2 linked regions of the Homo sapiens genome follow. The protein of the gene in region 2 interacts with the protein of the main gene of each other region in a biochemical or structural test. Each region holds a gene or a part of one and is shown on either strand. Other genes may lie near its edges.

Region 1 (3,500 bases), on a different chromosome or scaffold from region 2:
AATATTCCTATTCTCAGGAAACTGATACACAAAGAGGTAAGTCACTTGCCCAAGATCTCACAGCTAGTAACTGACAGAGCTGGGCCTCAAACCCAGGTGGTGTGACCCTGGAGTCAGTACTCTTAACTACCATGCTGACTATTAACTAAGCATTTTTTTTTTTTTTTGAGACGGAGTTTCACTCTTGTTGCCCAGGTTGGAGTGCAATGGCGTGATCTCGGCTCACCGCAACCTGCGCCTCCTGGGTCCTAGTGATTCTCCTGCCTCAGCCTCCCTAGTAGCTGGGATTACAGGTGCCCGCCACCACACCCAGCTAGTTTTTTGTATTTTTAGTAGAGACGGGGTTTCACTATGTTGGCCAGGCTGGTCTCGAGCTCCTGACCTCAGGCAATCCACCCGCCTCAGCCTCCCAAAATGCTGGGATTACAGGCGTGAGCCACCATGCCCGGCTAACTAAACATTTCTTAACTGAGCTAAAGGAAAAACAACAGTAGTAGCAAATAAGCCTCAGTGACTCTCTGAAAGCTGTTTAGAATATGTCAGAGAGTTTCGGACAGGCCATAACTACAATACCATAAAATAAGTTGCTGAAATAAAAACAGAAATGTTCACTTTAGCATGCTCTACTGGATATTTAATATACATTTTTGTATTCATTATAAAGTACTCTTACTTCAATAGTAAAACAGACGTTACTTTGTTTTTAATCAGGAAATACAAGTACCAGTCTCTAATTTATATTATATTTAGATGGTCTGATTCACACAAATCCTGAAGTGACAGGTCACCAGATGCCTGGCACCTCTTAACAGTAAAAGTGACATCAGAAACGTATAGTAATGTTCTTACCAAAATTAATAAATGCTTAGATATAAGAACGACTACTTAAAACTTCTAAGTCACAAAACACCATGCTAAAGGTTTTTATCAACCTCTTCTTTACAGAACATAACTACTTCTCTTATGTGGGGGTAGACTTGTGAATAGGCCAAAATTTCATAGGAAGGTGGGACATGGACCTTCCCCCTCCTTATTAAAAGTCATTTTGTCAGGACTTATGGTGGCTATATGGTGTTTCAAATGCTAACAGGAAACAAATGAGTCAACTTATGCACATGAAAAGCAAACTGTGAATAAAGAATAAGGAAGGGGAGGAAACAGTTCAATAAGTTCAGATACGACTTGATGATACTGTCACAGGCTGTCACAGGCCTCAGTATCTTCTTTATGTCCTAAAGAAATTGAGCCACCAACAGGAAAAAAGGTCACCTCACAGAGAATGCTGTGAGATTTTTAAGTTGCTAGACTCCTTTCCATCTTCTCCTTCTCCTCAGCTCTTGATACTGCTGTCAAATTCTACACACTGGCAAAGAAAAAAGGGGTGAAAGTTGAGGGATTTTATAGAGAAATAATAAAAAGTTTGTTGTGATTACTTGAACTAATATAGTATAGCCATTGATATCATTTTAAATGCCTAAAACACATGGCCTGTCCTTAAAGAAATGCCCATGTAAACCTTAAAACACTCACGATACCTGAAGAATGGACTCTATTACATTTTAGCAGGACAGCAAACTTCTCTTCCACCTCCCACCCACCCCAGGAAGTAGACATGATTCATCTTATGAAGGCATTGCTAAAAATCTGCTTGTTCCCTGGAATGGCTATCAAGTTGGAGACAAGGTAAAGTATAATTACCAGCACCTAAGAGTCTCAAACTTGTTTTCTGAATACGTATTTCTTATCTCAAAACATCTCCACAGACTTATAACATGGCGGCATTCAACTAGAATAGATACACAGGGCCTAAGCCACTGAGAAAGCTGGGAAAAGGGCACCAAGGAGCTTTGCGCAAACCACAGGCTTTCCCACACTGAACCACTGTTGCTGAGCCTTGGCAATAGGCCATGCGCTTGAAGCCCTCTCTATGGTAAGAGGGACTCATATACACTGATTTTTTAATTAACTTTTTAACAATTTGAGATATAATTCAGAGAGCACTCAAACTCACCACTTGTACATTTCAGTGGTTTTTAGTGTATTCACCCACATTATGTAACCTTCACCATATCTAATTCCAGAATATTTCCATCACTCCCAAAATCACCCTGTACCTATTATCCCATGCACTTTCTCCACAGATACCTCTGCTGCCTATGCAGGTATTTTAAGATGACTGGCTGGGGTGAATCTATAGAGTTATCTATATGGTAAGAAAACAAGAAGCTACATTGTCCAGAGGGATAGTAAACCTAAATTCTTGGCATTGTTAGCAATTAGGCTAATGTAATTTTTATATATTGGCTAAGAATGGCAGAGAAACTTACATTCAACATCCATCTTCACATAACAATTAGTGTGACCCAAATTCATCCAAGATGTTAAAAGGGAAGACAATCTACTAGGATTAGCCATAACTGTCCATAGTTGCAATCTCAAAACAGAGAAGATGCATACGGATAGTGGGAAAACCTCCTTTAGTATCAACCATAGCTGGATTAAAAAAAACAAAAACAAAAACAAAAAAACTTAATCATTAAGCAAATATTGCCCAGTGTGGGAAAATAATCACTAGACCAGTCCACTATTTAATGTAATGCAGCTTTAAATGCAACCTTACTGTCATCACTCTTGACCTGGAGTCTCTCCTAATGAGAAAAATTACCTTTAGGTAAAGGTCTGGCAGGAAAGCCTGCAGATGTGTGCTGTGCTGCTCAGGCTGTGGCAGGGCTCTAGTTACCTAAGCGTGCTCATGGCTTCTAAGACACACAGGAAAGAGACCTCACCTTCAGGCATCAGGGTGTTGAAAAGCGGGAGGACGTGTAGGTCCACGAGGGTATCTTGCTTTTGTGCACTTATCTGGGGTGCTATTTGCAGAGAAGGAGCTCCTTTATAGAGTGTGCCCAAGATGGATTTCTCTAAGTTGCTCTCAGAGTTGTCCAGCTGCCCTCACCAATAAGTCACAGTCTTTGTAGGATGATAGAAACCACCAGTCAAAGCAGATGCATATGGGTTGTGGGGAAGCCTTCTTTAGTATCTAACATAGCTGGATTAAAACAAAAAAACTTAACCATTAAGCAAATCTTGACTTTAATAATTTAGATAATAGCAAATATCAACTAGGTGTTAAGTTTAAGAATCTACCCTTAGCAAGGGCACTTAACACTTAACGGGGATTTTGTGGGATTAAATGAAGGCTACAATGAGCTCCTAATTTCTGTCCTGCAAGAAATTAGTTCTACTTGATAAACAAGTAAATAAGATCCAGAAATGTTTATTGGTAATGTAGCTCGTTCTCACTGAGGTTGCTCAGCAACGCTTCCAATGACTTCTGTTGTGCAACAAGTAGTACTCTACTAATGCATGCACGATTTTATTGTAATTTGCAATAATGACTTAAATACATGTTCATGTCCAGGATTTTCCAAAATACAATCAGATGCAATCAAGTGAAGTTAATGACATTTACGTAATACATAAACTGACAAAACTGCCTGAAA
Region 2 (3,500 bases):
ATAAAAAAAAGTTTTTAACTGCATTGAATTACCACATTAAACTGGGGTTTAAGAACCATACTTCTGTCTCACGTATATAATAACCCATAATCCACAATTTCATTATGTCTTCATGGGAAGACAGAATAAAATCTGCCACAAGGCAATTAACTCTTGATATTATCAGCTTGCCAATTAAGCAATGTTACCATTAGGTTGTTAAATCGGTGTTCAGGCAAAGTCACAAGTTTTCTTCTCATTTGCTTCAAATTCCTTCTCTCAAAAATGTAGTGAGGGCCCATGGTGAGTAATGCCCTACTACCCTATTTATTACTAACAATACATTTTCTTATTGGCTTTCCAGTGGTTTTAATTAGGCAGACCAACTGTACTATCATAATCATTCATGCCAATTCAGATCAATTCCACTGCCCTAGCTGTCAATTGATTGACCTAGTGCCTAAGTGATTCCTATATTTTCTAGTCTTTCTGAACTGACAAGGTGGGACAGAAGTACTCACCCAACATTTGCTTTTGCTCTTGAGGAGGGGCAGATGCCAACATGGAAGCAGTCAAAGGTTCCTGACCTTGTACATGAACAGCAGGCTAGACAGAAAATGAGAACTCTTAAGTTTAAAGCACAGAAAAAGATGGCAAATACAAATAGTCATCAATGGACATCTGCTGAAGTGGTAGACTTCCATCGAAACATGAGGTGGAGAAGTTGAGTGAGCGAATTAGAAAGAAGCCAAAGTAGTTATTATATACTATGTATCACAGATACATTTTTTTTCTTTTTGAGATGGAGTCTCACTTTGTCGCCCAGGCTGGAATGCAACGGCACAATCTTGGCTCGCTGCAACCTCCGCCTCCGGATTCAAGCAACTTTCCTGCCTCAGCCTCCCCAGTAGCTGGGATTACAGGCATGTGCCACCAAGCCTGGCTAATCTTTATATTTTTAGAGCTGGGGTTTCACCCTGTTGACCAGGCTGGTCTCAAACTCCTGACCTCAAGTGATCCACCTGCCTTGGCCTCCTGAAGTGCTGGGATTACATAGAGGTGTGAGCCACCACGCCTGGCCCATAGCTACTTGTAATAGTTGTTTCAGACCAGGCGTGGTGATTTAGGATGTGAATTTCTCGCTGCTTGTCCAATTCCAAAAGCGTAAGACATTTTACATACTATCATATTAGCAGAATGTTCCAGATAGGCTAAGCTCTCAAGAATCTATCATGCAGCTGTCTTCACATTTTTTCTTTTGAGACAGAGTCTTGCTGTCACCCAGCAGGGATTACAGCTTGCTGCAGCCTTAAACTCCTGGGCTCGAGCAATCCTCCTGCCTCAGCCTTCCTAGCAGCTAGGACTACAGGCTTATGCCACCACACCCAGCTAGTTTTCTTTGTGGAGACAGGGTCCTGTATGTTGCCCAGGCTGGTCCCAAACTCCTGGTCTCAAGCAATCTGCCTGCCTCAACCTCCCAAAGTGCTGGGGTTATAGGTGTGAGCCACTGTGCCCAGCTGTCTTCACACCTTTGATTTCACCCAAGAAATGTGATTTTTATTAAGAAATCATTAAATCCATACCTGTTGCATTGTAACTTGTGGCTGTGCATTAAGATGTTGCTGAGGATTGCGAACTCCTGCAGCATATTTATACTGTGGAACGGTGCGGACAGCAGGAGTAGCTGCAGCGGCTGCAGCTGCAGGACGTGGACCCATTGTCTGTGTTGATGTGTTAGCTAAAAAATAAGAACATTTTGTATTTTTATCTTGCTCTTTCAAATTGGTGATCAATTTTTAAAGGAAGGATTAAGACTCACCAACACGCTGTGTTGACATGACTCGTGGAACCTGTGAAGAAGCTGGTCTCATAGTACTAAATGGTGGTCTAGGAGCAGCTGGGCGGATAGCACCGGGCATATTTTGGAATGCTGCATTTTAAAGATGTGAATATACATTAACTGGGAAAACTTACTGAGTGAAAAGTGTTTATGCTGTCTTCTTCGATCTGAGGTTTGCATAAAAGACTAAAAAGTGACAAAACTTTTTAAAGCTGAGTCTTAACACTTGCCATTTTCCCAGACTCAGAGCATCAATAAGTAAAAACATTAATTCATACAAGGACGAGTACTTATATGTAGCGACCAGCCCCACAGGGTCGGTGGGCTTCTCCCTGTATGCAGCGACGAGAGAGTGCAGAAATAAAGACACGAGACACAGAGATTTAAAAAAAAAAGACAGCTGGGCACGGGGGACCACTACCACCAAGACGCGGAGACCAGTAGTGGCCCTGAATGTCTGGCTGCACTGTTATTTATTGGAAACAAAACACAAGGGGCAGGGTAAAGAGTGTGAGTCATCTCCAATGATAGGTAAGGTCACGTGGGTTACGTGTCCACTGGAGAGGGGGCCCTTCCCCGCCTGGCAGCCGAGGCAGAGAGGGAGAGGAGACAGAGAGAAAGACAGCTTACGCCATTGTTTCTGCATATTAGAGACTTTTAGTACTTTCACTAATTTACTACTGCTATCTAGAAGGCAGAGCCAGGTGTACAGGATGGAACATGAAGGCAGACTAGGAGCGTGACCACTGAAGCACAGCACCATAGGGAGACGGTTAGGCCTCTGGATAATTGCAGGCAAGCCTGACTGATGTCAGGCCCTCCACAAGAGGTGGAGGAGCAGTCTTCTCTAAACTCCCCAGGGGAAAAGCAGACTCCCTTTCCCGGTCTGCTAAATAGTGGGTGTTTTCCTTTGACACTTACGCTACTGCTAGACCTCGGTCCGCCTGGCAACGGGCGTCTTCCCAGACGCTGGCGTTACCACTAGACCAAGGAGCCCTTTGGTGGCCCTGTCTGGGCATAACAGAAGGCTCGCACTCTTGTCTTCTGGTCACTTCTCACTATGTCCCCTCAGCTCCTATCTCTGTATGGCCTGGTTTTTCCTAGGTTATGATTATAGAGTGAGGATTATTATGATATTGGAATAAAGAGTAATTGCTACAAACTAATGATTAATGATATTCATATATAATCATATCTAAGATCTATATCTGGTATAACTATTCTTATTTTATATTTTATTATATTGGAACAGCTCGTGTCCTCGGTCTCTTGCCTTGGCACCTGGGTGGTTTGCCGCCCACACTTATAAATATACCTGAAACATAATCATGATAAAATTCTAAGTGCTCCCAGCCTGGCCAACAGGGCAAAATCCCGTCTCTACAAAAAATTTAAAAAATTAGCTGGGCGTGGTGGCGTGTGCCTGTAGTCCCAGCTACTTGGGAGGCTGAGGCAGGAGGATCACCTGAACCCGGGAGGTGAAAGCTGCAGTAAGCCAAGACCATGCCACTGCACTCCAGACTAGAAGAAAGAGTGAGACTCTGTCTAAAAAAATAAACTCTAAGTGCTCTTGGAATATAACATACTGTTCCACAGGACAAGACATAAAATACCACGACTCTGATTCTCATACATGATTAAATGGAACGAGACCTTTAAAACTGTGGCCTGACAAAATATG

Evidence for each region. Proteins that work in one complex are often made in the same cells at the same time.
Region 1: the proteins of PABPC1 (region 2) and UNK interact in a test that uses a peptide from one of them, tested with the Homo sapiens proteins (one large-scale study listed by BioGRID and IntAct).

What each region holds. Positions count from the first base shown.
Region 1 is NC_000017.11:75,791,306-75,794,805, reverse strand, and holds part of UNK (RING finger protein unkempt homolog), read right to left. Parts: exon of another isoform or gene 2,330-3,500; coding exon of another isoform or gene 2,328-2,329; intron 1,364-2,327; exon of another isoform or gene 1-1,363. UniProt on the Homo sapiens protein: Sequence-specific RNA-binding protein which plays an important role in the establishment and maintenance of the early morphology of cortical neurons during embryonic development.
Region 2 is NC_000008.11:100,705,089-100,708,588, forward strand, and holds part of PABPC1 (polyadenylate-binding protein 1), read right to left. Parts: intron 1,910-3,500; coding exon 1,799-1,909; intron 1,718-1,798; coding exon 1,563-1,717; intron 586-1,562; coding exon 501-585; intron 1-500. UniProt on the Homo sapiens protein: Binds the poly(A) tail of mRNA, including that of its own transcript, and regulates processes of mRNA metabolism such as pre-mRNA splicing and mRNA stability.